Regions from separate parts of the Homo sapiens genome. Here all the other regions are linked to region 3. Evidence: fine-mapped expression QTL. A gene starts in region 3. Each other region holds a variant in brackets. All regions are shown on one strand. Distances are from middle to middle. Region 1 overlaps GLG1 (golgi glycoprotein 1). Region 2 overlaps GLG1 (golgi glycoprotein 1). Region 3 holds the start of RFWD3 (ring finger and WD repeat domain 3).

What was found.
Region 1: its variant is fine-mapped to the expression of RFWD3 in whole blood (TwinsUK, PIP 0.95).
Region 2: its variant is fine-mapped to the expression of RFWD3 in thyroid (GTEx, PIP 0.94).

Annotation. Positions count from the first base shown.
Region 1 is chr16:74,468,827-74,479,518 of GRCh38, forward strand. GLG1 (golgi glycoprotein 1) reads right to left here. Exons shown (of 26, transcript NM_001145667.2): 12 at 8,570-8,707; 13 at 5,720-5,806; 14 at 3,523-3,585; 15 at 2,347-2,460; 16 at 1,159-1,247; 17 at 120-237. Among named protein-coding and RNA genes, the nearest start is that of CLEC18B, 53 kb to the left of the region's middle. The variant T/C (reference allele first, on the strand shown) is at 5,978.
Region 2 is chr16:74,579,584-74,590,275 of GRCh38, forward strand. All of the region lies in intron 1 of GLG1 (golgi glycoprotein 1), which reads right to left. Among named protein-coding and RNA genes, the nearest start is that of GLG1, 22 kb to the right of the region's middle. The variant CTG/C (reference allele first, on the strand shown) is at 5,953.
Region 3 is chr16:74,662,212-74,672,131 of GRCh38, forward strand. It overlaps RFWD3 (ring finger and WD repeat domain 3), which reads right to left and starts at 4,666. Exons shown (of 13, transcript NM_018124.4): 1 at 4,575-4,666. It overlaps MLKL (mixed lineage kinase domain like pseudokinase), which reads right to left. Exons shown (of 11, transcript NM_152649.4): 11 at 9,644-9,920. It also overlaps the pseudogene TMPOP2. RefSeq lists a silencer at 4,196-4,345.

The DNA.
Region 1 (10,692 bases), 190 kb before region 3:
CTTCAAGTCTTAACCATCACAGTAGTGGATAAAATGCCTCCCCCTTGCCCTAGCCTCTCCCCAGCTTTCCAAGCCCTGGCCCACTGTGGTTTCTGGGAGCAGAGGCTGGGAGGCATTACCATCTCCAGCTCCTCCACACGGAGCTGCCTGCGGCACTTCAGGGACACCCTGTGCTCCTTGGCTTCCTGCAGAGTGTCATTGCGCACGGTCGTGCTCAGGCAGATCACCACGTCCACCCTGCAGACGAAAGAAGCTTGAGGCTGGCTGGGGCCACACAAGGGCAGATGGCCTGAGAGCTGGGCTTGGGGGGGGTCACACCATTAAGAATTCAAGATGCCCTTTGGGGGAATGTCTTTCCTGTAAGGCTCACTGTATTTTTTTTCAGGGTGCTAAAAGCTGCAATTTGACTGTGGGTGTCATGAAAGGCAGGCAGCAGCATGAATGCTGACTACATTCCTGACAGAAGGGGAAGCCACACAGGGCACATGTGTGCAACGACAGTTCAACATCTGTGTTAAAAACATGTGACCACAGAGGAATGCTGCTCTTAACTCTAGGACTGTACTTTTGACCTACTGTGAAACTCACTCCTGAAAGGTAGAGAAACCTGAGCAAATTGGGAATTTGGTTTGTATGAGGGCAAGTGTTCTAGAAATGGTCCTTTCAAAGAGCAACATGGAAGAATTTGGACAGTCACGCTGAAAAAGCTCATCAGTTTCCTCAAAAAGACTTAATTCTTAAATGAATAAAGATTCTGTTTCTTCACTAAATATCTAATCCAATACAAAAACTGCTGCATCTTAGATGAGATGACATAACGGGACGACGCAGGGAAGAGGTCAGTTCGCCTCTTTCACTCACACTGCACCCTGCTTCTCTAAGTACACAATCCAGCCCTACTTGGTCAGTTAGATGGCCTGACCTGGAAAAATTAAAAATGCTCCTTTAGCCTATGGGACCTCCATGTGAGAACTACCATCGCCAGATGCTCTGTCCAGACAGTCCGAGTGTTTGCCACGCTAATCAAAGGAGAGATGCGGGAGGCCTCCAGGGCTAACCCCACGAGGCAGCAGGAGGGCTGCCTAACATCTCGCATACTCATTCCGGAGCTAAGAGGAACTTCGGGAAAGTGGAATGAAACAACTACAAGCTACATACTTCTTTTTTATGTTTGGGCAAAGCTTCAACACGTCCTCCTTGCAGGCCATTTTAAACTTGTAAGAAAACCGAAAATCCTTCATCTGCACCTGAAAGGTAAAGAGAAAGAAAGTCAGAAGTTTTGTGGCAACTTGTGGTCAGTAGTGGTAGGGCGCACTTTTTCATATAGCTCTCACAAGCCTGTTTACAAGACCCTGCATGGCTTGACCCACACGTGAGACATCACGACCTGCTCATCTCTCCAGTACTCCCCCTACAACAGGCAGGCTTCCTTCCTTCCTTCCCTCCCTCCCTCCTTCCTTCCTTTCCTTCCTTCCTTCCCTCCCTCCCTCCTTCCTTCCTTTCCTTCTTTCCTTCCCTCCTTCCTTCCTTCCCTCCTTCCTTCCTTCCCTCCCTCCTTCCTTCCTTCCCTCCCTCCTTCCATCCATCCATCCTAAATAAAAATAGGACATATATTTGTAATTTTTTTTTTTTTTTTTTTTTGACAGAGCCTCTCTCTTGTCATCCAGGCTGGAGTGCAGTTGTGCGATCTCGGCTCACTGCAACCTCTGCCTCCCGGGTTCAAGTGATTCTCCTGCCTCAGTCTCCCGAGTAGCTGGGATTACAGGCACCCGCCATCACGCCAGGCTAATTTTGTATTTTTTGTAGAGACAGGGTTTCACCATGTTAGCCAGGTTGGTCTCGAGTTCCTGACCTCAGGTGATCAGCCTGCCACAGCCTCCCAAAGTGCTGGAATTACAGGCGTGAGCCACCATGCCCGGCTGGAAAAAATGATTTTTTTGTTGTTGCTGTTGAGATGGAATCTTGCTCTGTTGCCCAGGCTGGAGCGCAGTGGCGATCTCGGCTCACTACAACCTCCGCCTCCCAGGTTCAAGCAATTCTCCTGCCTCAGCCTTTGAAACAGCTGGGATTACAGGTGTGTGCCACCATGCCTGGCTAATTTTGTATTTTCAGTAGAGACGGAGTTTCACCATGTTGCTCAGGTTGGTCTTGAACTCCTGGCCTCAAGTGATCCACCCACCTCAGCCTCCCAAAGTGCTGGGATTACAGGTGTGAGCCACCACGCCTGGCTGGAAAAAAATGACTTTTAACAGAACATCAGAGGTGCTCTGATGTTCCAAAAAAGGAAAGGATTCAGTCAACATCCAGGCAGCTATGATGGGATATTGGCAGCCAGGTGTCACTGACCAGCTGGAAGTGGGTAACTCCGATGGCACACTTCTCGTTCATGTCCTTCTGGTGTTTGTTCTGTATCAGACACTCCATCAGGTCCCCAGAGTCTATCTGGTTATCTGCCACATCCTGGGGAAGACAGCATGCATTTACACTTCATTGGTAACAATTAATGAACAAAACTTGTAGCCCAGTCCGAAACAAATGCAAGCAAGGTTAGTTCTAGAAGCCCTCACAAAAAAAAGACACACCATAAATTGTAATCAAAATAAGCCTGAAGAATCACAATGGTATACATTCAGTGGCATAAAACTAACACAGCACTGTGTTCCGTATAAGACATGATATACGCTTTTTTTTTCACTTTCCGAAAAGCAGCTGGCTTTTGGGACAATATCTAACATAGCCTCCCAACTGTCAGATCCTAATGGTTCCTGGGTATGTTTCACTCCCACAATTTAAATAGTTCAGTAAATGAATATGAAATAGTCAGAATTCACTCAATATTGAGGTACTAGGAGACAGTTGGAAGAAGGAGCCACTATTACTGCTAACAATTCCTGGGCAGATGCTAACAATTCCTAGGCTGATGTACTGGAATCAACCCTGCATACTAATGGGGGTTTCCCTGTTCCATCTCTTCTTAAAAAGGGCAACTCAGTAACTGCTGCTGGCCACATACCTGTTTTTACCTACAAAAGCTAATCAAACACAGGTTCCAGGATGGTAGCATCTCTCTCTCGATCTTGTTTACTTTTTCTTTTTTAGACAGGGTCTCACTCTGTTGCTTAGGCTGGAGTGCAGTGGCACAATCACGGCTCACTGCAGCCTCGACCTCCTGAGCTCAAGTGATCCTCCCACCTCTGCCCCCTAGGTAACTGGAACTACAGGTGTGTACCACCACGCCCAGCTAATTTTTTCTATTTTTTGTAGAGACAGAGTTTTGCCATGTTGCCCAGGCTGGTCTTGAAATCCTGGGCTCAAGTGCTCCTCCTTGGCTTCAAAGTGCTGGGATTACAGGTATTGGTCACCACACCCGGCCTGTTTACATTTTTAATTTTAACTTGTCAAAGCTGGCTAACACTCAAGAGTAATACATGCTGCAGACAGAGGTGAGTCTGAGATACTCAGGGGAGAGTCCCTGTCAATTTGTTTCTGTTTTTAACCCTTGCTCCTCCAGACATCACTTACGTGGCAGAAGTTCTGAATTATGGGCTCACAGGCTCTCATCAGCAAGGCTTCTATTTGAATATCCTGTAGAAAATTAAATATATTAATACTTCTGCTTTAGAAAGAGCCAGGGTGGAGGAGGAGCAGTTTCTCTTTCTGAATCAGTAATATCTGATGGGCAAATAATCTAATACATACTTTTGGAAACGATTCTAGTATTTGAAGTAGATAGCCCCAGAATAAATATAGAACTGCTCCTCCGTTATACTTTGAAAGGCAAATTTTTAAAGACATATTCCCTTTCGGCCTGAACAAATGAGAAGGCAGAATTAAGAAAAGTGAGGTAAAAACACATGTAGCAATAACATTAGAGTATGCAAAGCCTTTGCAGATTTTCCCAAAATGCTAAGTAGTTCAAAATGAAAACAGGGGTAACTGATATCCATCTTCAGTTTATAAGCTCATAAGCCAGAGCACTGCCCTCAAAGCAGATGCCAAACCACTGTTACTGGGGAACACATACTAATAATGCCTTTAAAGAGAGAAACCCGTGCAACACTAGCTCCTGAAAAAACACCTTCCTTTAAAGAGCTATACACCCAGACTGCTCTCATAAGTCCATGATGACAATGATAATGTGAGAGATGACGACGAAATGAGAGAAGGCAATGAACTTCTGAAAACTAGAAAGCAAAAAAGAACTGGTTGAGAAACGTAATTTTACATTATGACAATTCAAATAGAGTACTAAAAGGTTTAAGACAAAATGGTAGTTCCCCACTTCTCTGATTTCTGGCCCCACAAAATAACTTTAACATGTTTAGCTGCCCTCCTCTGTATTTCTAAATAACATCCCAGTGCTTTATGAGGGTTTCTAATCCCCCTTTTTTTTTTTCTTTTTATTGAGACGGAGTCTGGCTCTGTGGCCCAGGCGGGAGTGCAATGGTGCAATCTCGGCTCACTGCAACCTCCGCCTCCCGGGTTCAAGTGATCCTCCTGCCTCAGCCTCCCAAGTACCTGGCACTACAGGCATGTTTTACCACGCCCAGCTAATTTTTGTATTTTTAGTAGAAACGGGGTTTCACCATGTTGGCCAGGATGGTCTTGACCTTTTTTTTTTTTTTTTTTGAGACATAGAGTCTCGCTCTGTTGCTCGGGCTGGAGTGCAGTGGCGTGATCTCGGCTCACTGGAAGCTCCGCCTCCCGGGTTCACGCCACTCTCCTGCCTCAGCCTCCCGAGTAGCTGGGACTACAGGCACCCGCCACCACACCTGACTAATTTTTTTGTATTTTTAGTACAGACGGGGTTTCACCGTGTTAGCCAGGATGGTCTCGATCTCCTGACCTTGTGATCCGCCCGCCTCGCCTCCCAAAGTGCTGGGATTACAGGTGTGAGCCACTGCACCTGGCCTCTAATCCCATTTTTAAAATATTTTAGTGGGTTTCAGGATGGAACAGGGATAAACATACGTATTCAATCTTCCATGCTTAGCTGGAAGTCCTCAGCTTTTATGTTCTGAAACACACAAACATTACCAAATGACCTAACTAAAAGAGCGAGGGATGAGAGAACGGGAATGTGTAGATTGCTCTTGAATGTGACTGTGATGTGAAGTACTGCTGCTATTTTTTTTTTTTTTTTGAAACACAGTCTCCCACTCTGTTGCCCAGGCTGGAGTACAGTGGCGCAATCTAGGCTTACTGCAACCTCCGCCTCCCGGGTTCAAGTGATTCTCCTGCCTCAGCCTCCCAAGTACGTGGCACTACAGGCGTGTTTCACCACACCCAGCTAATTTTTGTATTTTTAGTAGAGACGGGGTTTCACTATGTTTGGCAAGCTGGTCTCGAACTCCTGACCTCGAGATCCGCCTGCCTCGGCCTCTCAAAGTGCTGGGATTCAAGGCGTGAGCCACCGCTCCCGGCCGTACAGCTGCTATCTTAAGGGAGAAACAGAGGCAAGTCTAATGACTATGATAAACCTAATTTATGAAGAAAACCAAAGGGCTGTATAGAGTGTTGTTCTAGAGAAATGAGGGAAGGAGCTCACAAAGCAACACAATATACTTCTTTATAAAGCAAACATGGAAAATTTGATCAGGTTTCTTTTGATTGACAGAAAATCTGCACTCTCAGGAGTCTAGAAACAGTAGAATCAAACACAAAAGGCCAGGATGCTGGCAGCCACTCTCCTCCAATGAGTAAGCTGCATACCACTTACCTCTGATTCTAACTCAGTGAGGTTGCCAACTATATCTCTACACTCCACCACCAAGTCATCCAGATGGTCCTGAAGGCACTCCAGCTCCTGCAAATATAAAGGCAAGCCACTGGCATTTATCAGTCACATACATGAACAAGGCAAGGGGAGATATCAGCGTCATGACACTTCCCTTTTCAGTGGTCCTCCTTTCTCTTCTTTTTAAAATTACCTCACTGAACAGGACACAAAAGCTTTGTTTAATTCCCCAGACTGAGA[T/C]TGTTGAAAAGATAATTACTTCATGTAGCAGGTTGGTTATGAGGGCCAAGTGGGCACAAGAGCCATGCAAAGGCTGGGCATGATGGCTCACACCTTTGATCCCAGCACTTTGGGAGGCTGAAGTGGGCAGATCACCTGGGGTCAGGAGTTCGAGACCAGCCTGGCCAACACAGTGAAACCCCATCCCTACTAAAAATACAAAAATTACCCGGGTGTGGTGGTGGGTGCCTGTAATCCCAGCAACTCAGGAGGCTAAGGCAGGAGAATTGCTTGAACCCAGGAGGCGGGGGCTGCAGTAAGCCAGGATCGTGCCACTGCACTGCAGCCTGGGCAACAAGAGTGAAACTCCGTCTCAAAAAAAAAAAAAAAAAAAAAAAAGAGCTGTGCAAATCCCTCAGAAGACCAAATCTACAAGTGCAAGGAGAATCAATCTTCAAGTGTCCTCAAAGTCTAAAAACCTTATCAGGCCTTGATTCTATTTTCAATCTGTGCTTTGATAATTTCTCATCTCTCATTTTAAATATGCACTTTAATAATGATCATCAGACAAATTCACAGTGAAGAGCACAGATTATTTTAAGACTCTTTATTGGCAAAGTAATTGGGAACCAGGGGTCTGGAACACAGGATACAACTGATAGCTCCTGCAAGTCAGATCTGGGATTCTAACTCCAGTACACATCAAAAGGGTCCTCTGAAGAAAAACAAGTGAACACACTAGGGTTTGGGTACTTAAAAGCTATCTTGTGTGGGCTTTGGAAACCGAGCTGGAGCTATCTGTAGCATTAGTCTATTACTATTCCTTCTAGAGGTTTACAGGTTTAGAGGTTTCAAGTATAATATCAGCTCACTTTCACAAAGCATATCAACAGCTATTTCTTAGCAAAGTGCTCTGTTAAAGGATCAAGTTTAACTTACTATTCTGCAAGAATCTCTCTGTTTCAGAATTAGAATGTGAGGGGAAGAGAGGAGTTGTAGGAATTATACAACAGCCAGAATGGAAGAAGAAGAAGAAATAAAAAAGCTAAAGGAAAATACCCCAAACTTTTGGGAGTAAAATAAATGGCTAAGAGAAACATCCTATTAATAGAATCCTGGCTGGTCTCAGTGGCTCACACCTGTAATCCTAGCACTTTGGGAGGCCAAGACAGGTGGATTGCCTGAGCTCAGGAGTTAGAGACCAGCATGGGTAACATGGTGAAACCCTGTCTCTACTAAAATACAAAAAATCAGGTGGGTGTGGTGGCAGGTGCCTGTAATCCCAGTTACTAAGGAGTCTGGGGCACAAGAATTGCTTGAACCCGGGAGGCAGAGGTTGCAGTGAGCCGAGATCGTGCCACTGCACTCCAGCATGGGTGACAAAGTGAAACTGTCTCAAAATAAAAAAAAAAAAGAATTCTTAAGTTTAGCTTCTCCATGACGGGCTGCAATGTAGTGCAGCTTTCTAAAGTTTACTTTACTCGGGGTTCTAAAGGAAACTATTTTCTGGGATTCCAAATCACCATATCCCTTGTTTCATTGGACAGAGGCAACAGAAAGCTCAACTATAAGCATTTTCTAACAATATACCCAACAGAACTGTAGCAGGCTCAGGAAACAGACTGCTGAACATGATAGTCCTATGCTCAACAGACCTGAGTAGGCAACCATGTTTCTCCTTTAAAATGTCCAATTCCTGTACGTGTGACTTTTTCATACTGTACTTCCAGAGGGGGTTTTGTAGTGGTACAAATGGAACCCAGAAACCTGAGTTCACTCCTTATTTATGTGGCTTTAAACACGCAGTATTCCTACTGCTGAGTATCCTGCATTCAGATGGAAGACAGCTAGCTTCCCACATGACCTGCAGTCATGCATCTTTCCTTCTTTCCCTTAAACTGGGACACAATCCTAAGGAGCCAATCACAGCACTCAGGGAATTTTTGGGGGCTGCTCCTTCCCTCTGCTTCCTAGATGGAGAGGCTATATAATGAACTGAACTGAATTTTAGGTAAGGGAATGTATACACTTAACTTCTCTGAGCTTCAATTTGTCAACCAGGTGAGAAAAAATTCCATTTCTACATGTTTTTTGGGACTGTTCTAGGGCATGCCCACTATTCATGCAGACCAGTACTCACATACGCACAGATTTACACCCTGCTTATCTCAAAAGGACTTAATGGAGAAAATGAATTAAAAATGAGTAAAATGAATAAAGAAGAGAAACAAAAAGGAAAGGAAAGAGGATGTGAAATGGAGCCAGTAGTAAGCTTTCTACAAAAATGCCTACCATGAAATCTTATATACCTGTAAGAGGCAGGCCATACCATTGGCTCTAGAAGTTTTAATAAGCAACAGGAAGAGGGAAAATAATCAATTACAAAATACAATAACTATAATGCAAACACAAACTCACTGCCAACTATTCCTGATACAAAGACCAGAGAGAAAATTTTCCTGAGAATTTCTTCCAGAGAAAATATTGAACAATACAACAAATCACATCTGTAAGGTAAAGAGAGATGGATTTTATGGTGTTTGTACTCTGCATAAAATGTTAAACATTAACATCATCATTATTGTAAGACAAACAGAAAGCGATGTCACCTACCTGTCCAGTCTCTGTTTTCTCACTGCACCATTTTCCCAGATCAATCAGGCACTTATCCTGGAGGGCAGGATCCAGCTTGACATCCATGGCACGCTGGTGTAGGATCCTTTGGACTTCAGCTCGGCACTCCCGTGAGAGCTGCATGAGAAAAAATGAGCTAAATACTTGAAAGGTAACAAAACAAAAACACAAAGATATGAGATAAACCTGCTATGAGGAAACTAACAAATAACCCTGTATTTTATCTCCCAAATTTTATACCTCAAATATCTTCCAGAATAAAAATTAAATGTTGCGGCCAGGTGCGGTGGCTCACGCATGTAATCCCAGCACTTTGGGAGGTCGAGGCGGGCGGATCACCTGAGGTCGGGAGTTTGAGACCAGCCTGACCTACATGGAGAAACCCTGTCTCTACTAAACACACAAAATTAGCCAGGCATGGTGGCACATGCCTGTAATCCTAGCTACTCGGGAGGCTGAGGCAGAAGAATCGCTTGAACCCGGGAGGTGGACATTGTGGTGAGCTGAGATTGCACTACTGCACTCCAGCCTGGGCAACAAGAGCGAAACTCCGTCTCAAAAAAATAAATAAATAAATAAATAAATAAATAAATAAATAAAATGTGCAAGAGGCTTCGAAAAGCCCATATCTTTAGCAATGCGATTATACATATTCAGCAGTTTCTAATATACTATATAAACAACATTCTTTTATGACAGTATCCTGATAAAAGTGAACTGGCTTCATTCAGACTAGGTTAGTTGGAAAGTTTTGTGTTTGTTGTTTTGCTTAGCAAAACTAATGTGTCAGTCTATGAACACCAGGTAGAAGGTCAGATCCAATTCAAGAGAGCATATACACTTGACTCAGGAGAAATGAGTTCAAATTGACCTAAATCAGAAAAAGCAGGAAAATGTAGATATAACATTATGAGATAGGACTGGACTCTTCTAGATGAGCTATGAAGAATTAGCAGAGGGTAAAGCAGGTGAAAACTAGTATTTTTCCAAGGGCCATGACAAAGCTGTTATTGACAGATACAGTTAGTCTCTCTTGCAAAAAAAGAAAAAAAAGCCAGCATACCTGGGGCAGGAGGGATGGAAAGTAACTGTTTAATGAACACAGGGTTTCCTTTTGGAGTCATGGAGTGTTTTGAAACTAGACAGACATGATGACCACACAACACTGTAAATGTACTAAATGTCACTGAATTTTTCTCTTTAAAATGGTTAAGACCAGGAGCGGTGGCTCACACCTGTAATCCCAGCTCTTTGGGAGGCTGAGGCGGGCAGATCACCTGAGGTCTGGAGTTCGAGACCAGCCTGACCAATATGGAGAAACCCCATCTCTACTAAAAATACAAAAATTAGCCGGGCGTAGTGGCGCATGCCTGTAATCCCAGCTAATCTGGAGGGTGAGGCAGGAGGCGGAGATTGTGGTGAGCCGAGATCACACCACTGCACTCCAGCCTGGGCCAACAAGAGTGAAACTCCGTCTCAAAAAAAAAAAAAAGGGGGGGGTTATTTTGGCCAGGCGCAGTGGCTCACACCTCTAATCCCAGCACTTTGGGAGGCCCAGGTGAGTGGATCACCTGAGGTCAGGAGTTCAAGACCAACCTGGCCAACATGGAGAAACCCCGTCTCTATTAAAAATCCAAAAAAAAAAAAAAAAAAAAAAAAAAAGCCAGGCATGACGGCAGGCACCCGTAATCCCAGCTACTCGGGAGGCTGAGGCAGGAGAATCACTTGAGCCAGGAGGAAGAGGTTGCAGTGAGCCAAGATCACACCACTGCACTCCAGCCTGGGGTGCAGTGAGACACATTCAAGAGTGAGGCTTTGTCTCAAAAAAAAAAAAAAAAAAGGTTAATTTTATGTTATGTGAATTTCACCTCAATTTAAAAAAAAAAAGAAAAGAAAACCAGCACCACAGACTCCAACTCTTTCTTATTTAAAAGAGAATAAACCTCCTACCCCCTAGTCACTATAGTGACCAGAAAGATGCCGGGATGTGGGAGCCCCCATGGTTAATGAGAGGCTCATTATATGGAGAGAAAAAAAAAAAAAAAACAAATTCCCACGTTTTCTCACACAGCAGTATAAACACTGGGTTAGGGAGCAGCAAC
Region 2 (10,692 bases), 82 kb before region 3:
TAGTGGCACACACCTGTAGTCCCAGCTACTAGGGAGGCTGAGGCAGGAGAATGGCTTGAACCAGGGAGGCGGAGGTTGCAATGAGCTGAGATTGGGCCACTGCACTCCAGCATGGGTGACAGCAAGACTCAGTCTCAAAAACAAAAAACAAAACAAAACAAAAAACCCTCAAGAGATCTTCATATGAAGACCTTAGCATGGCCACGCACAGTGGCTCACGCCTGTAATCCCAGCACTTTGGGAGGCGAAGGCAGGTGGATCACAAGGTCAAGAGATAGAGACCATCCTGGCCAACATGGTGAAACCCCGTCTCTACTAAAAATACAAAAATTAGCTGGGCGTGGTGGCACGTGCCTGTAGTCCCAGCTACTCTGGAGGCTGAGGCAGGAGAATCGCTTGAACCTGGGAGGCAGAGGTTGCAGTGAGCCAAGATCCTGCCACTGCACTCCAGGCTGGGTGACAGAGTGAGACTCCGTCTCAAAAAAACAAACAAAAAACCTTAGGATAACTTTTCCAGAAGAGCTGAATCTCATGTTGCACCATTTTTTAAAACACAGGCCTAAATCCTAAAGGCTATTTATCAGGTATAAAAGATGCTAAATCAAAAAACCAAATTTTACGCCTGTGCAGTGGTTTATACCTGTAATCCCAGCACTTTGGGAGGCTGAGGTGGGAGGATTGCTTGAGCCCAGGAGTTTGAGACCAGCCTGAGCAACATGGCACAACCCCCATCTCTACAAAAAAAACTAAAAAAAAACCAAACAAAAAAACCAAGCCTGGTAGCATCTGCCTGTCGTCCCTGCTACTCAGGAGACCAAGATGGGAAGAGTGCTTGGGCCCAGGAGGTCAAGGCTGCAGTAAGCCATATTCACGCCATTACACTCCAGCATAGGAAACAGAGAGAGACCCTATTTCAAAAAGAAAAATTTTTTTTAAATTAACTCAAAATGGATCAAAGGCCTAAATGTAAGATCTAAAACTACAATATACTGTGAAGCAAGCATAGGAGAAAAGCTTCATGACATTGAATTTGCAATAATTTATTGGCTATGACACTAAAAGCACAGACAACAAAAGAAAATGATAAAGTAAACTACATCAAAGTTGAAGACGACCAAATCAATAGAGTGAAAAGGCAACCTATGAAAAGGAAGAAAATATTTGCAGGTCATCTATCTGATGAGAGGTTAATATTCAGAATATATAATAAACTCTTACAACTCAACAACAAAATACAAACAGCCTGATTAATAAGTGGGCAAGGATCACCTGAGGTCAGGAATTTGAGACCAGCCTGACCAACATGGTGAAACTCCATCTCTACTAAAAATACAAAAAATTAGTGCACCGTTGCACTCCAGCCTGGGCAACAGAGCGAGACTACGTCTCAAAAACAAACAAACAGAAAATAAGTGTTGGTGAGGATGTGAAGAAATTAGAACTCTCTGAACTGTTGGTGGGAATATAATATGATGCAGCTGCTGTGAAAAACAGTATGCCCTAACCTCAAAAACTTAAAAATAGAATTGCCATATGACCTAGTAATTCCACTACTGGGTATATACCAAAAAAAAGTGAACACAGGGTCTCAAAGAGATATTTGTATACCCACATTCACAGCAGCATTATTCACAAAAGCCAAAAGGTAGAAGCAATTCAAGTGTCCATTAACAGATGAACAGATAAACAAAATGCAGTGTATACGTATAATGGAATGTTATTCACCTTTAAAAAGGAAGGAAATTCTGATACACATGCCGCAACATGGATGAACCTTCAAGACATTAAAAGTGAAATAAGCCAGACATAAAAGGACAAATATCACGATTCCACTTACATGGAATACCTAGAGTAGTCAAATTCACAGAGATAAAAAATAGAATGGTGGTTGCCAGGGACTCTGGAATGGGAAGTTGTTATTTAATGATTATGGAGATTCAATGTAAGATTTAAAAAAAAAAAAAAAAAAGGCCAGGAGGTGCTTCATGCCTGTAATACCAGCACTTTGGGAGGCTGAGACTATCTAAAAGGGAGGACACTCCTGTTAACAAAGATCTTTCAAGATTAAGGAAACCCCAGCACCTCGGGATGTTGAGGCAGGCAGATCACCTGAGGTCAGGAGTTCGAGACCAGCCTGGCCAACATGGTGAAACCCCGTCTGTACTAAAAATACAAAAAATTAGCTGGGCTTGGTGGCGGGCGCCTGTAATCCCAGCTACTCGGGAGGCTGAGGCAGGACAATCGCTTGAACCTGGGAGGCAGAGGTCACAGTGAGTCGAGATAGCGTTACTGCACTCCAGCCCAGGCGACGGTGAGACTCCGTCTCAAAAAAACAAAACAAAACAAAACAAAAACAAATTCAAAGTACAAATCATGTTCTGTGACACCACATTGGCTTGAACCCTCTCCTCCTTCCTCTCTTGCGTAGCATTTTACATGCACCCTCTTCCTCTCCAGCATTTCCAATCTCTCACCCTCTCTACTGGTTCCCTGTTTCTTTGCCTTTAAAACAGATTTTCCTAGATAGTAAGATTGGGGTGAAAAATATTTTAATAAATAAAAAAATAGATCTCCATAATCTGTTTTTTTGTTTGTTTTTTGAGACAGACTTCCGCTCTTATTGCCCAGGGTGGAGTGCAATGGGGCAATCTCAGCTCACTGCAACCTCTGCCTCCCAGGTTCAAGTGATTCTCCTGCCTCAGCCTCCCAAGTAGCTGGGATTTTAGGCATGCGCCACCATGCCCAGCTAATTTTGTATTTTTAGTAGAGATGGGGTTTCATCACGTTGGTCAGGCTGGTCTTGAACTCCTGACCTCAGGTGATCTGCCTGCCTCAACATCCCAAGGTGCTGGGATTTCCTTAATCCTGAAAGATCTTTGTTAACAGGAATGTCCTCCCTTTTAGATAGTCTCACCTTCTCTTCACTATCAAACTTTTCGGTCAAAATCTGGGTTCTGCCGGGCGTGGGGGCTCACGCCTGTAATCCCAGCACTTTGGGAGGCCAAGGCAGGCGGATCACGAGGTCAGGAGATCAAGACCATCCTGGCTAACACAGTGAAACCCTGTCTCTACTAAAAATACAAAAATTAGCCGGGCGTGGTGGCGGGCGCCTATAGTCCCAGCTACTTGGGAGGCTGAGGCAGGAGAATGGTGTGAACCCGGGAGGTGGAGCTTGACAGTGAGCCGAGATCGCGCCACTGCACTCCAGCCTGGGTGACAAGAGTGAGACTCCTTCTCAAAAAAATAAATAAAATAAAATAAAATAAAATAAAATAAAATAAAATAAAATAAAAATCTGGGTTCTATAGAAGGTATTCTATCTCTTTTACCAGAAACCATGCTCTTTTCTCAGTCATTAACTTTAGCTGTGCTACTCTAGTTACCCAAGGGTTTACTACCTTTTAAATTTCTCTTTTCTTGACTCTCACAACTAAAATTTCCCTTTCCTTGGCTTCCACAACTAAACTCCTGTAAATCTTCTTGTAACTCCCAACCACTCCTCCTGTTACCTATAATTCCCTCCACAAGCCTCTTTCCAACCCTTCATCGCAAGCTGTCCCCAGGGCTCAGTCCTTGGAATCATAGTCTTCTATTTACACATTCTTTAAGAGGGCTTGGCCATTTTCATAGCCCCAACTATAGCCTTATAAGCAGGATGACTCTAAAATTTAGACTCAGTTCAAGAGTTAGTTCCAAGTTTATATCCTCTTACTGGAAACTGCCTGAAATGCCTAGCTGTCATTTCAAATTCAGCACAAATTACATATTTTTGGAGGTAGTGTAACAGTTAAACTTTGACTTTTTTGGGGGGTTGGGCGCAGAGTTTCGCTCTTGTCCCCCAAGCTGGAGTGCAATAGCGTGATCTTGGCTCACTGCAACCTCCATCTCCCGGGTTCAAGCAATTCTCATGCCTCAACTCCCTAGTAGCTGGGATTACAGGCGCACGCCACCACACCTGGCTAATTATGACATTTTTAGCAGAGGCAGGGTTTCACCATGTTGGCCAGGCTGGTCTTGAACTCCTGACCTCAAGTGATCCACCGGCCTCAGCCTCCCAAAGTGCTGGGATTACAGGAGTAAGCCACGGCACCCAGCCTAAACTTTGACTTCTCTTCACTTGGTTAAATTCTATCATTCCTTCAGCTCAATCATCATCTTCTCAGGGAGACATATCCAGACTCCAATTAGCCAATGTCCAAGCATCTCTCTTTCAAAGCTCTCACCATGGCTACGTCCTCCACTCGACCATGTCTTTTAGAAGGGGGAGCTGAGGGTATCATCATCACCACATTCCCAGCACCTACAATTAAGGTGCTGGCACACAGTAAATAATATTTACCCAAAATTTGTCAAACGAATGAACAAAAGCACTGTAAATTTTTCCTAGGTAAGAAGTCCCCATCAATCCCACTTCTATCTCCTTTGCTACTAGTCTCCTTTGGCCCAAGTCTGTTTTGAGGTCTCATTGTAACAGCAGCTTTCTCAGCGCCTTCAATTTTCCTCACTTCAATTCATAGTGCCCCGAGTAATTTCCTTAACTATTTCATCATGACATTCTCCTACCCAAGAATGTTTATAGACCTCCTAGTTCCCCCGAAAACAAAACTAAGTTAATATAGACATTTCAATAGACAGCCAGCTTTGACAAGAACAGTAATGCCAGCTGCTCAGGACCCTTCCCACTAGCCATGCACGGCTTCGAAAAACATTGACTGTTTTCTTTGACTCTCCTTTATTCTCCTTGCAGACAATAATATGAACTTGGAAATGTTACTATTAATTGCATCATAAATGCCTAACATTAATTAACGAAGTTTTGTTAGCAATACATTTATAAACCATCTCTTAGGGTATCTTTCTTACAAAGCATGATTAATATTATTTATAACACTCTTACCAATTAGTTTCAGTTTCACTTTAGAAACCTATCCTTAAATCCTAGGGAGCTAAGTAAGCTATGAAGAGGCAAAGGCATAAGAATGATATAATGAACTCTGGGGACTTGGGGTAGAGGGTGGGAAGCGGTTGAGGAATAAAAAAACCACACACTGGGGGCTGGGCACGGTGGCTCACACCTGTAATCCCAGCACTTCGGGAGGCTGAGGCGGGTGGTCACAAGGTCAAGAGATCGAGACTACCCTGGCCAACATGATGAAACCCCATCTCTACTAAAAATACAAAAATTAGCTGGGTGTGGTGGTGCGCGCCTGTAGTCCCAGCTACTTGGGAGGCTGAGGCAGGAGAATCTATTGAATCTGGGAGGCAGAGGTTGCAGTGAGCTGAGATTGTGCCACTGCACTCCAGCCTGGCGACAGAGCGAGACTTGTAAAAACAAACAAACAACAAAAAAACCCCTACACACTGGGTACAGTGTACAATGCTCGAGTAATGGGTGGACCAAAATCTCAGAAATCACCACTAAAGAAAGAACTTATTCATGTAACCAAACACCACATGTTCCCCAAAAATCTATTGAAATAAAAAAAATTTTTAAAACCCTATCTTTAAATCGCAGATTCAAAAACTCTAAGTAAAATTGACCAGGCACAGTGAGTGACTCATGTCTGTAATCCCAGCACTGTGGAAGGCCAAGGCAGGCAGATCACCTGAGCTCAGGAGTTCAAGACTGGTCTGGCCAACATGGTGAAACCCCATCTCTACTAAAAATACAAAAAATTACCTGGGCGTGGTGGCACACACCTGTAGTCCCAGCTACTCGGGAGACTGAGGCACGAGAATCACTTGAACCCAGGAGGTGGAGGCTGCAGTGATCTGAGATTACAGCAGTGCACTGCAGCCTGGGCAACAGAGCGAGACTCTGTCTCAAAAAAACAAAAAAGAGGCCGGGCCTGGTGGCTCACGCCTATAATCCCAGCACTTTGGGAAGCTGAGATGGGCGGATCATGAGGTCATGAGATTGAGACCATCCTGGCTAACAGGGTGAAACCTCGT[CTG/C]TACTAAAACTACAAAAAAAATTAGCCGGGCATGGTAGTGTGCGCCTGTAGTCCCAGCTACTCAGGAGGCTGAGGCAGGAGAATGGCGTGAACTCAGGAGGCAGAGCTTGCAGTGAGCCAAGATCACGCTACTGTACTCCAGCCTGGGTGACAGAGCCTGAGACTCCGTCTCAAAAAAAAAAAAAAAAAAGGCCTCTAAGTAAAATTATGACAAATAAAGTTTAGTTATCTAAAGTAAGATTTGGCCGGATGAGGTGGCTCATGCCTGTAATCTCAACACTTTGGGAGGCCAAGGTGGGTAGACCACTTGAGGTCAGGAGTTCAAGACCAGCCTGGCCATTATGATAAAACCCTGTTCCTACTGAAAATACAAAAATTAGCCAGGTGTAGTGGCGGGTGCCTGTAATCCCAGCTACTTGGGGGGCCGAAGCAGGAGAACTGCTTGAACTCGGGAGGCAAAGGCTGTAGTGAGCCGAGATCACACCACTGCACTCTAGCCTGGACAACAGAGCAAGACTCTGTATCGGAAAAAAAAAAAAAAAACAAGAACAGGTGGTAAACAGGGTGAATCCTATGGTAAGTGAATTTCATCTCAATGAGTTAGAAAGAGCTGATAAGGAAAAAAACAAAAACAAAAACAAAGGCAAGGCCCTAGGAAACGAATGGAACCACAAGATAAAAGGAACCTGGGTCTCTGGATCACCAGATGACTGCATCACAGTCCCCCACAACTTCTCTTGTGTTCAACCACTGATATTTTTGGGTTTTTTATGGAAGTTAGTTTTGTCCTAATTAGCACATGAACTGAAAGGAAATCTTTTATCTTGTACACTGGTAAAGGGCTTATTATTAGCTCAACTCAATTACAAGACAAGTTGACCACCTTGACACACAATGAAATTATATCATGCTTAAATATTTTTCCATTGGGCAATGGAAAGATAATTTTTTTTTTGAGACAGGGTCTCGCTCTGTCACCCAAGCTGGAGTGCAGTGGCACAATCATAACTCACTGCAGCCTCAATCTCCTCAGCTCAAACAATCCTCTCACCTCAGCCTCCAGAGCAGCTGGGACTACAGGAGCCTGCCACCACGCCTGGCTAATTTTTTTGTTTTAATAAAGTCAGAACTTTGGATCAAAATACACACACATTTGTAATTCTAATTTTTTTTTTTTTGAAATGTAGTCTCGCTATTGTTGCCCAGGCTAGAGTGCAGTGGCGTGATCTCAGCTAACTGCAACCTCCACTTCCTGGGTTCAAGCAATTCTGCCTCAGCCTACCAAGTAGCTGGGATTACAGCCTCCCACCACCACACCCTGCTAATTTTTGTATTATCAGTAGAGATGGGGTTTCACCATGTTCGTCAGTCTGGTCTCAACTCCTGACCTCAGGTGATCTGCCTGCCTCAGCCTACCAAAGTGCTGAGATTATAGGCGTGAGCCACCGCACCTGGCCTCATTAATCTCTCTTTCTAACAAATTCTCCCCATTCCTTCCCACATTTAATATGTCAGAAGTTAAAATCCAAGAAGTAATGATTTCTACTTCCACTCATGAGGATTAACTACTATGGAAACTATCTCCCTTACTCCCATTGTGAACGAGACACAATATATGACGTAACCTTCAGTCACTGGACAACAGGCAGCATTAACTATGATCCCTGAGAGAAGGCAACAAACCAGGTGAGCCGATGATTACCTAGCTTACTGTATGGAAGTGGCTTCCCGGCTGCAACACAGGGAGAGGGAACCCAAACAGAATTGGATAGTCTTGCTGAAAAGAGGAGAGAAATTAAACTTTAGGGTATCTAAAGCAGCTAGAATTTGAAAGATTTGAATAGTGGAACCAAGAAAGAGTGAGAATAAAGAGTTCTGTACTGAGAATGGTCACAGGAGATTTGTGGAGGGATCCCCTTGAATCTAATAAACAATTACCACACTTGTAAAGCAGGAATATGACTAATAACAAAACTTAATCAATAGAAAAAGATCAAGAAATGACAGACATGATGGAATTAGCACATGAGGACCTCAAACAGCTATTACGGCTGGGCACGGTGGCTCACGCCTGTAATCCCAGCATTTCGGGAGGCCGAAGTGGGCGATCACGAGGTCAAGAGATCAAGACCATCCTGGCCAACACAGTGAAACCCCGTCTCCACTAAAAATACAAAAATTAGCTGGGCATTGTGGCACGTGCCTGTAGTCCGGAGGCTGAGGCAGGAGAATCACTTGAACCTGGGAGGCGGAGGTTGCAGTGAGCTGAGACTACACCACTGCACTCCAGCCTGGCGACACAGTGAGACTCCGCTTCAAAAAAGAAAAAAACAGCTATTGCAAGTACACTAAAGGGTGTAAAGAAAAACATGAACATAATGGATAATCGAATATATAAATAAAACACCCAAATCAAACGTCTATAGGTGAAATATACTTAAAATACAAATTCACTGGATGGTATTAATAGCTGACTGAAAACTACAAAAGAAAACATCAGTGAACCTGAAGATCAGCAATAGCAATTATCCAAAATGAAACACAGAGAGAAAAAAAACAGGGGGAGCGTTGGTGGGGGGATTAAAAACAGAGCCCACTTGTGGGACAATAGCAATCAATTTAACCTACATAAGATTAGAGCCCAGGAGAGAAAGAGGGACAAAAAAACTGTCTGAAGAAATAGTGGGCAAATAGTATGTGATCAAATATTTGTTGATGGATTTAAATAAAAATGGTAGGGGCATAAAAATATAAAAAAAATAGCATGAAAATATGTTATCTATGTAAATGTGAAAAATAACAGAGAAGCAATGTGGTAACATGGAAAGACAGAGGCTTTGAATTTTAAAAGATTTGAATTTAAGCTTTTTGGATTTGAATTTAAGCTCTGTTTCTTTCTTTCTTTTTTTTTGAGACAGGGTCTCACTCTGATGTCCAGGTTACCCATTCTGTTGCCACTGCAGCCTCGACTTCCCAGGCTCAGGTGATGCTCCCACCTCAGCCTCACAAGTAGCCAGGACTACAGGCTCTCACCACCACACTGACTAATTTTTGTATGTTTTGTAGAGATGAGGTTTCGCCATGTTGCCCAGGCTGATCTCAAACTCCTAGGCTCAGGAAATCCACCCGCCTTAGCCTCCCAAAGTGCTCGGATTACAGACATGAGCCACCACACTTGGCCTGTTCTTAACATTATGTGACTTGGGCAAATAAAAATCTATCTGATTCGTGGTTTTTCACCTGTAAAATAAGTCTCATATCTGTCATATCTACCACACATGGTTATCAAGAGCTACAAATAAGATTAAAAGGGTTCCATAAACTGAAAGCTAAATAGCAACTTGACTAAGAATAATCAAATAGGGAAAAGGTTGTTAGACCAATATCCTTTTTTTTTTTTAAATCAAATGTATTTGGTGAGTGGCCGGGCATGGTGGCTCATGCTTGTAATGCCAGCACTTTGGGAGGCTGAGGGGGGTGGATAACTTCAAGTCAGGAGTTCGAGACCAGCCTGGCCAACATGGTGAAACCCCGTCTCTACAAAAAGAACAACAACAACAACAAAAAATTAGACGGGCGTGGTGGCGTGCACCTGTAATCCCAGCTACTCGAGAGGCTGAGGCAGGAGAATCACTTGAACCCAGGAGGCAGAGGTTGCAGTGAGCCAAGATTGCGCCACTGCACTCCAGCCTGGGTGAAAGAGTGAAACTCTCTGTCTCAAAAAAAAAAAAAGAACAATTATGTTAAACCATATGAAAATGTTTTTATAAGTCAAATATGATGAAATATTGGTAATTTCTTATAGTTCATTCAATCTAACAAAAATGAAGGAAGAAAACAATGCCTAAAGCAGACCTAGCTGGCAGGGGAAGAGAAGCAGCGGGCTGTGCTGAGGGAAGGGCACTGGGAAATATTTTGGTGCAGCAAATTCCCAAACCACTGATATAAAATATTTTCCCAAAAATAACACTTACATATAAGCCCTGTAAACTCTGAAGCTGTAACTCTGTACTCTCCAAAAGCCCACACCACTACACTATTTATTTGCGGGTGTGGGGCAGCAAGATGTGTATGGAGCCAGTGCGAAGCAGAGGCAAGCAGGCTGAGAATCTGGGCTAAAGAATGGGAATTTCCACAAGAGGAAGGGAAACACAACAATGTCTTCTGACTTCTGCTTTCAGTGCTCTAATTTCTCCTATTTCACATATACTCTCAAGTTGAAAAGGAAAGTATACCAATAGTAAAAATTCTTGGCCGAGCACGGTGGTACACGCCTGTGGTCCCAGCTGCTCAGGAGGCTGAGGCAGGAGAATTGCTTGAACACGGGAAGCAGAGGTTGCAGTGAGCTGAAATCCAGCCAATGCACTCCAGCCTAGGTGACAGAGTGAGATTCTGTTTCATAAATAAATAAATAAATAATAAAAATATACCGATAGTACAAATTCTTGAAACTTCACTTTTGTTGTTGTTGTTGTTTTTTTGAGATGGAGTCTAGCTCTGTAGCCCAGGCTGGATGGAGTGCAGTGACACGATCTCTGCAAGCTCCGCCTCCAGGGTTCATGCCATTCTCCTGCCTCAGCCTTCCAAGTAGTAGGGACTACAGGCGCACGCCACCACACCCACCTAAGTTTTTTGTATTTTTTAGTAGAGACAGGATTTCACCATGTTAGCCAGGATGGTCTTGATCTCCTGATCTCGTGATCCGCCCACCTCGGCCTCCCAAAATACTGGGATTACA
Region 3 (9,920 bases):
CTTACCTCCTCATGCATCAGGACAACAGGACTGAGCCACTGTGCCTCCCTACCACCTAGTTTTTAAAGTACATCAGTATAACTTATCCCCTTAATTACTTTGTGAAGTAAGGCACGTGCTTTTATTTTCATCTGACTTATGAGGAAATGGGGGTTCAACTAATAGTTATTAAGCACCTGTTATGCAGACAAGACACCCTAGAGGCAAAAACAGATAAGACCCCATGTATCAGAGTTTAGATTCTAGCAAGTAAGATGTCAATAAACAAATACATGAAAAAAATTATAGATTATGATGTTTGGGGTTGAGGAGACAAAGAGGACCAACTAAGACACAATTGTGAGGGAAGTACTCTTTTAAAGAGTGAAAATTGGGCTGAGGCATGAAGGATTAAAAGCAGCTGGCTATGCAAAGAGCCAAGAAGAGTCTCAGAAGGAAATCAGTGCATAGGTCCCTGATGAGCATGGGTTTCACTGATGAACAGGACACCATTATTAAAGGGCCTATGGGCCTTGGTAAGGAGTTTCTTCTATGTTAGGAATGCACTGTAGGGGTGCAAGAGCATAAGCTAGGTGACCAGTGTAGAGGCTATTGTGGGAGTCCAGACCAGAGGTCAGAGAGACCTAGGCAAGAGTGGTAGCAGTGGAGATGAAAACAAACAGACAGCTTTAAGAATCTTCAGAATGGTCATGCTTCTTTTTTTTTTTTTTTGAGATGGAGTCTCGCTCTGTTGCCCAGGCTGGAGTGCAGTGGCGCGATCTCGGCTCACTGCAAGCTCCGCCTCCCGGGTTCACGCCATTCTCCTGCCTCAGCCTCCCGAGTAGCTGGGATTACAGGTGCCTGCCACCACGCCTGGCTAATTTTTTGTATTTTTAGTACAGCCGGGGTTTCACTGTGTTAGCCAGGATGGTCTCGATCCCCTGACCTGGTGATCTGCCAGCCTCAGCCTCCCAAAGTGCTCGGATTATAGGCATGAGCCACCGCGCCCGGCCAATACTCATGTTTCTTAAAATCATCAAAGCAGATTAAACCACCTGAGGAACAGAATGACAGAAGAGGGCTGAAGACTAAAGTCAGAGACACTACTGTTAAAAGTACAACAGAGTAAAAGAAGCCAGTTAAGGAAGATTATAAAGTAGGAGGAAACATGGGAATGTGGTGTCTTGGAAAAACAATGTTTCAAGGAAGGAACAATTGAGTGTCAAGTGCTACTGGGGGGAAGAACGGCCGCTAGATTTGGCAACATGAGGATGACAGGTGACCTAAAAAAGCAGTTTCCCTGAAGTGGTGGGGTCAGAGGCCAGACTGGTGCAGGCTGAATAAATGGAAGGAATTCTAATAAACATAGTGGACGAAGTACATATATGTATCTTTCTCTCTCCACTCCAGTCATTCCTAAAACCCACGAACATGACCCCCACAACCTGAGACATTTTTTTAAGAAAGGATAAATTAACCAGGACGACACAAATGCAAACAGGGTATGATATGCAAACCAGTTTTTTAAGGCCATAAAGGAGAAACTGATGATTGATGACTGCTTAGCAGAGCCAAAAGATAAAACTCAAAGCCTGCAAAGGGCACAGTGGTTGGGGTGAGGTGTGTTATTGAGAAGCAAGCTGATTCCCACTAAAGGGACTGTAAAAACCAGGTACCACAAAAGGCAATATTGAAAGATGGCGCTAAAAGAGAAGGGCTGGTTAAAAGCCAGTAAAGCAGTTAGCTTGACTCCTACTCAAACACCAGCCAGCTAAAACAAAACACAGAACAAAGCCCTTCTCCCCCTATGCACGAGAAAACTGGAGGTTTGAACCACACAGGCTTACACTCAGGATGGAGAGTGGCACAGTACTGAAAATAAGTGGGAAAGAAAGTCTGCAAACTGAACAATGTGAGATACTTCAAGTTTTAAACATTTTTTGTATAGATGGGGTTTCCCACGTTGCCTAGGCTGGTCTTCAACTCCTCGGCTCAAGCAACCCTTCTGCCTCAGCCTCCCAAAGTGCTGGGATTACAGGAGTGAGCTACTGCAGCTGCCTAACTAAAAGCTTTTAATGTTTCTAGGGTACAACGACAGTCTCCCAAGAATTGTGTGTCAGAACATAAGGCCCAAGCTACTTCTAGATGTACTCAAGAGACATTAAGCAACTCAGCCTTCAGGAAGACAAAGGGGAGAAATGGACTAAAAAGAGCAGAATCTAGGGGGCCGCACTGTCTACTCCCATATGGTTATTTAAATTAAATAAAAATCAAATTCGGCCAGGAGCTGTGGCCCACGCCTATAATCCCAGCACTTTGGGAGACTGAGGCAGGTAGCTGGAGACCAGGAGTTGGAGACCAGCCTGGGCAACACGGCAAAACCCCGTCTCTACAAAAAATACAAAAAAATTAGCCAGCCGTGATGGTGTGCACCTGTGGTCCTAGCTACTTGGGAGGCTGAGGCAGGAGAACCCCTTGAACCCGGAGAGTGGAGGTTACATTGAGCCGAGATCACGCCACTGCACTCCAGACCGGGAGAGAGAGTAAGACTCCGTCTAAAAAAAGAAAAAAGAAAGAAATAAAATAAGTTCCTTTGTCGTGCAGGTCACATTTCAACTGCTAGAAACACACATAGGGCGGGTGACTCCCATACTGGACAGCAGAAATACAGAACACTTTTCTCGTCGCACAAAGTTCTATGGAACGGTGCAGTTCTGGAGCTGAAGCTTCCTAACCACTGTAGGCCAGTCGGAGGTGCCTAGAACGAGAGACCATGGGCTGGGCACCCCAAACCTTGAGGATGTCACACAAACGCTGTTTTTTATGTGTGCTGTGAGCGGTGCTTAAAATGTCAACCTCAGACTTGTCATCTTTGTTACTCAGGTTTCAATCAATGGCCACAACAGGCAGGACGAAAGCCCCTCAATTAAAGGTTGAGAAGAGGTGGGCGGGGGAAGTGTTCAAATCTTTGCTCTGGCCGGTGCAGAGGGTCACGCCTGTGATCCCTGGACACTGAAATGCCCAGGCGGATGGATCACTTACGCTCTGGTGTTCCAGACCAGCTTGGGCAACACAGTGAAATTCCCATCTCTACCAAAAAAGAAAAATAGAACAGGTCAGGCGCGGTGGCTCACACCTGTAATCCCAGCACTTTGGGAAGCCGAGGGCAGACCACTTGAGGTCGGAGTCCCAGAATGGCCAATATGGTGAAACCCCGTCTCCACTAAAAATACAAAAACTACCCGGGTGTGGTGGCGCATGCCTGTAATCCCAGCTACTTGGGAGGCTGAGGCAGGAGAATCGCTTGAACCCGGGAGGCAGAGGTTGCAGTGAGCCGAGATCGCACCACTGCACTCCAGCAGGGGCAACAAAGCGAGACTCTATCTCAAAAAAAGAAAGAAAAAAGAAAAATAAAACAATGAGCCGGGCGTGGTGGCGCGCACCTGTGGTCCCAGCTATTGCGGGAAGCCGAGGTGGGAGGATCCCTGGGGCCCGGGAGTTCGAGACTGCAGTGAGCTCTTCCAGCCTGGGTGCAACAGGGAGACTTTTCTTTCTTTCTTTCTTTCTTTTTTTGAGATGGAGTTTCACTCTTGTTGCCCAGGCTGGAGTGCAATGGCGTGATCTCAGCTCACTGCAACCTCGGCCTCCCGGGTTCAAGCGATTCTCCTGCCTCAGCCTCCCGAGTAGCTGGGAAATGGGGTTTCTCCATGTTGGTCAGGCTGGTCTCGAACTCCTGGCCTCAGGTGATCCGACTGCCTCGGCCTCCCAAAGTGCTGGGATTACAGGCCTGAGCCACCGCTTTTCTCTTTATAACACCTTTTTCTCTTTATAACAGGAAAAAGGGAGGAAGAGAGAGGGAGAGGGAGAGGCGGAGGGGGAAGAGGAGGGAGAGGGAGACGGGAGGGGAAGGGAGAGAGGGAAAGAAGGAAATTAAATCCCTGTTCTTTTACTACATGGGGAAAGAAAGACATAGATAGATTAGATAGACAGATTAGATAGATAGATAGATAGATAGATAGATAGATAGATAGATTGATTAGATACATAGATATTAAATCCCTGTTCTTTTACTACATGGGGAAACTTTGGGCGGGTTTCCTAAACTCGGCTCAACTTGTTCTCCTGTAAAACAGGGATAATACAAGTCTTTACTCCACAGTTTCCGTGATGAAATTAAAAATGAAGTTCTTCCATCAACTTTAAAGTGATGAAGTAATCGGCGCTCAGAGCGGGCGCAGGCAACGCCGCTGAGGAGCCCGAGGCTAGGCTCTCGGGGGAAGGGCCGGGCGACCTCCCACCCCGGCCAGGGCAGGCCCCGCAGCAGCGAACTCGGCTCCTTCAGTGATCGCCCCGAGCTCTCGCCTGCCCAGCCCCCACGCCCAGCAACCCAGATACGCGCGGGGGTTCGGGCTCCTTAGCCCCGACCACTGGCGCCGCCCCGAGGGCCCGAATCCCCTCAGGCCGCCGGGTTCCAAGCCCGCGTGCAGCCCACCTCGTGGGGTGTCTCCTGAATCCCAATCCAGGAATCAGGCGTGGGGAGGTTTATCCCGAAGCTAGAGGCCCAAGGCCTGAGGAGAAGCAACACCCCTCCTCACCTGAAACCAGCAGGCCGCGGCCGGGCTCGCGAGCCCGCCGAAGACTCGGTAGTTACCTCGGCCGCACTCCGAATGCACCTACGCCAACTGCCACTTCCGGAGCCGCTCAAGCTCCCGCCAGAGCCGCCGGCAGGCATGCTCCTATTGGACAGAAGCCCTACGCTGTGGCCAATACCCACTCTTCTTCTTCAATGGGTCCCCCGATAGCTGAAGCAGCGGTGCTCTCATTGGCTGGTAGTTCGTCCTGACGAGGCGGGACCGCGCTTGAGGAAGCCTCCTACAATTGGCAGGAATCTACGTCCGTCACCTTGCACCCGCCCCGGAAAAAATGGGAGGTTTTTTTGTTTTTTTTTTGTTTGGTTTTTTTTTTTTTTTTTAGCGCGTTTTATTTGAACTTTCTGGCGGGAGAAAGTTATATGATTTCTCGGTCCATTTTGGAATGGGGATGATGATATTAAAACTGACTCCTGCTGCTTATCCCTAACGCTTTAGTGAAGGAGTTATCTGTATCCAAAGGATAGCAGCTAATCGAATAATTTCAAAATATTTCAATATTTTGAATTTCGGAGCCTGTAAAGAGGCGTAGGACAGTCCAGTTCATATGTATCCTCTCATGGGGTTGAAGAGCTCACGCAAAATACTTTGCCTACATAATCTCTTCAATCTCAAACCGCTGCAAGGGATCTGAGCTACTGAACAGTCTCAAATCACTTGTTAGGGCCGCCGCTCGCCGCCAGCGCCAAAAGAAAGGGGCCCCCGGAATTCTCCAGCTACGTACGAGGAGCGCGAGCCCACAGCCGTCTCGGCTCCGAGCCCGCCGCCGGCAGGAAAGCCACAAAGAAAACTGATAAACCCAGACAAGATGATAAAGACGATCTAGATGTAACAGAACTCACTAATGAAGATCCTTTGGATCAGCTTGTGAAATACGGAGTGAATTGTGGTCCTATTGTGGGAACAACCAGGAAGCTGTATGAGAAATAGCTTTTGAAACTGAGGGAGCAAGGAACAGAATCAAGATCGTCTCCTTCAGCAACAATTTCTTCTTCAGCAGAAAATACAAGGCAGAATGGAAGTAATGATTCTGACAGATATGGTGAAAATGAAGAAGACTCTAAATTGGGCTCAAGTTTGAGAAGAGAGAACCGCTAAACAGGGGAGTAAAGACTCCAGTAACCCTCAAGCAAAGAAGAGTTGAGCACAAGGAGAGCTATTCTCAAGCTGGAATAACTGGGACTGAATGGACAAGTGGATCTTCAAAAGGCGGACCTCTGCAGGCATTATTAACTAGGGAATCTACAAGAGGGTCAAGAAGAACTCCAAGCAAAAGGGTGCACGCTTCAGAATATTTTCGTATAGATGGAGCAGTAATTTCAGCGAGTACTCCCATAGCTGAAACTATAATTGCTTCAAACAACGAATCCTTAATTGTCAATAGGGTGACTGGAAATTTCAAGCATGCATTTCCTATTCTGCCAGTCACTGAATTCTCAGACATACCCAGAAGAACACCAAAGAAACCATTGACAAGAGCTGAAGTGGGAGAAAAAAAACACAGGAAAGAAGAGTAGAAAGGGATATTCTTAAGGAAATGTTCCCCTATGAAGCAACTACACCAACAAGAATTAGTGCTAGTTGCCGCAGAACAATCAAAGGAGCTGCAGGCCGGCCATTAGAACTCAGTGATTTGAGGATGGAGGAGTCGTTTTCATCTACATATGTTCCTAAGTATGTTCCCTTGGCAGACGTCAAGTGAGAAAATACAAAAAAAAGGGACGCTCCATTCCTGTATGGATAAAAATTTTGCTGTTTGTTGTTGTGGCAGTTTTTTTGTGTGTGTTTGGTCTATCAAGCTATGGAAACCAACCATGTAAATCCCTTCTCTAATATTCTTCCTGATGACTCTAGAAAACCCAACTGAATGGTATCTCTTTGGCACATTCAACTTGGTCTTGTATTTTTAGTAACTGTGTTGAAGAACATTCGTGTACGCTTTTTGACTCCAAGAACTAAAAATAATGTGATTTTGCCTCAATAAACGTAGTATTCCATTGGAAAGCAAACAAAAGATATATGAATGGACTTTATTAAAATGTTTTTGAACTTTGGACTAGTAGGAGATCACTTTGTGCCATATGAATAATCTTTTTTAGCTCTAGAACTTTTTTTTTTTTAGACAGGGTCTCGCTCTGTTGCCCAGGCTGGAGTGCAATGGCATGATTTCGGCTCACTGCAACCTCCACCTCCTGGGTTCAAGTGATTCTCCTGCCTCAGCCTCCTGAGTAGCTGGGATCACAGGCACGTGCCACTACGCCCACCTAATTTTTGTATTTTTAGTAGCGGTGGGGTTTCACTATGTTGGCCAGGCTGGTCCTGAACTCCTGACCTCAGGTGATCCACCCGCCTTGGCCTCCCAAAGTGCTGGGATTATAGGCGTGAGCCACCGCGCCCGGCCATAATGTTCATGATCTTGATAGAGTTTGGATTACTCATATGTATGCATTTGTCAAAACTCATCAAATGCTATCTTTAAGATTTGTGCATTTCACACAAATTTTTCACAGCAAAAACTTACCTTCCCACCCCCCCGCCAAAAAAAAGCTCATAGAGAGATAAACTCCAGTTAATGGCATAAATGCTGAAGTGTTTAGGAATGAAGTGCATAAAAAATCAGGATGAATTAATGGCTAGAAAGAGGCACAAGCAGATAAATAGGTATGTGATAAAACAAATATAATAAATTGTTAGTTGTAGAATTTAGGTGGTAGGTATATGGTTGTTCAGAGTACAATTGTACTGACTTTTCTGTGTATCTGGAAATTTTCATACATAAGTGTTGGGAAAAATCAGGTACAGGGCCTTGGAAGGCATCCTGTGCAAGTAAAAGGCCCTGAAGATTAAGCTTTATCAGGCTTATAGTAAATTCACCTATAATAATTGTGGGTCTGCCAGAGTATGAATAATTCATCTACCAGGGAGAATTTTCACTGTAACTCCTACAGTAAATAGAACAAATGATTTTAAAGATGAAAACAGTGGCTGGGCATGGTGGCTCATGCCTGTAATCCCAGCACTTTGGGAGGACAAGGTGGGCGGATCCCTTGAGGTCAGGAGTTCCAGACCAGCAGACCCTGCCTCTGAAAAAAAAGAAAAAAGAAAAAAGGAAGGAAGGAAAATAGTAAAATAGTAATACCTGCCAGTAAGTTCTACAAAATAATCATATTAAGTTTATATTCTTCTGCATTTTTTATTTATAGAAAAAAACCATGTTCTAGGTTTTAAAAAAATCAAGGATAAGTAAAAGATAAAAACATAAGGCCGAGTGTGGTGGCTTATGCCTGTAATCCCAGCACTTTGGGAGGCCAAGGTGGGAGTATCACTTGCGCCCAGAAGTTCAAGACTAGCCTAGGCAACACAGTGAAACCCTGTCTCATAATAATAATAATAATAGTAATAGAAATCAGCCATAATTTTCTTCACCAGAGATGATTACTAGAATACAAGACCCAAATGTATTTTTATTGCTGTCTTCTCAGTGATTGAAACAATGGACAGCACATTTGCTGTTGAATGATTTAGAATGAGTTCTGAAAAAAATGTAACTTTAAAGACAGGGATTAGTGTATCCTAGGCAAAGCACACACCATGAACAAAGGTATAAGATCTAAAATGAGACCAGGTGTGGTGGCTCATGTCTGTAACCCCAGCACTTTGGGAGGCCGAGGTGGGCAGATCACTTGAGGTCAGGAGTTCGAGACCAGCCTGACCAACATGGTGAAATGCTGTCTCTACTAAAAATACAAAAATTAGCCAGGTGTGGTGGCACACACCTGTAATCCCAGACACTTGGGAGGCTGAGACAGGAGAATCGCTTGAACCTGCAAGGCGGAGGTTGCAGTGAGCCGAGATTGCGCCACTGCACTCCAGCCTGGCCAACAAGAGTGAAACTCTAGGCCGGGCGCGGTGGCTCACACCTGTAATCCCAGCACTTCAGGAGGCCGAGGCGGGTGGATCACCTGAGGTCAGGAGTTCGAGACCAGCCTGACCAACATGGTGAAACCCCCATCTCTACTAAAAAATACAAAAAGTTAGCCGGGTGTGATGGTGAGCACCTGTAATCCCAACTACTTAGGAGGCTGAGGCAGGAGAATCGCTTGAACCCAGGAGGCAGAGGTTCCAGTGAGCCAAGATTGCACCACTGCACTCCAGCCTGGGCGTGACAGAGCAAGACTCCGTCTTAAAAAAAGAAATCTAGAATGAAAGCACCACAAACATGGGTTTGAGTCTGGCAGGGATTAAAATCTGGCAGCTCCTATGTGGACATATTTTGTTTGTCTTATCAGCATTAAAATAATTTTTTTTTTGAGACAGGGTCTCACTCTGTCACTCAGGCTGGAGTGCAGTGGTGCAATCATGCCTCACTGCAACCTCCGCCTCCCAGGTTCAAACGATTCTCATGCCTCAGCCTCCCGAGTAGCTGGGATTACAGGCATGTGGCAGCCACACCCAGCTAATTTTTGTATTTTTAGTAGAAACAGGGCTTCACCATGTTGGCAAGGCTGGTCTCGAACTCCTGACCTCAGATGATCCTCCCGCCTGGGCCTCCCAAAGCGCTGGGATTTCAGGCATGAGTCACCGTGCCCAGCCTAAAATAATTTTTAATGAGATACTGACCTTTAAAAATAAGGACATCACAGAAAAATCCAACTTTCTAGCTCTTTTGACAAAATGGAAAGCTCTAGAAATGTTGGGATCCCATTCTATGTGACAAAGTATAGACTGGAGTTGAGGAGACGCTGTTCTTGCTCATCTGCCCACTGAAGCCCCCTCCAGGTTCAAATCATTCATTTAGTTTCCTTCCTAGGCCCTATGGGTATTAGAGTTTGCAATCTCTGGTAGGAGAACTCTGGCATCTGATTGGAAAGTCAGGTTGGAAAGTATGGTATGGGGGATATCCATAAGGCTATGGATATCCAAATAGGAAGTTTGTACTTGATTCCTTGGGCAAGAGGAAGAATTGAACAGTTTCTGCCTAGTTACTTCTGTTGTGTAAAAAACCACCACAAAACTTAGTGTTAAGACAACAGTAATTTATTTAGCTCCTGATTGTGTGAATGGGCAATTTGGGCTGGGATCTGCTTGAGTGGTTCTTCTGGTCTTGATTGGCCTCATTCATGTGTTAGCTGCCATGTTGGTTGGGCTAGTATGACTTCAGCTAGGAAAGCATGTTTCTGCTTCATGTGGTCTCTCATTCTCCAGCATGCTCACTCAACATGTTCATGGCTGGGTAAGGTTCCAACAGACATTTATAAGGCCTCTTGAAACCTAGGCTTGGAACTGGCATAC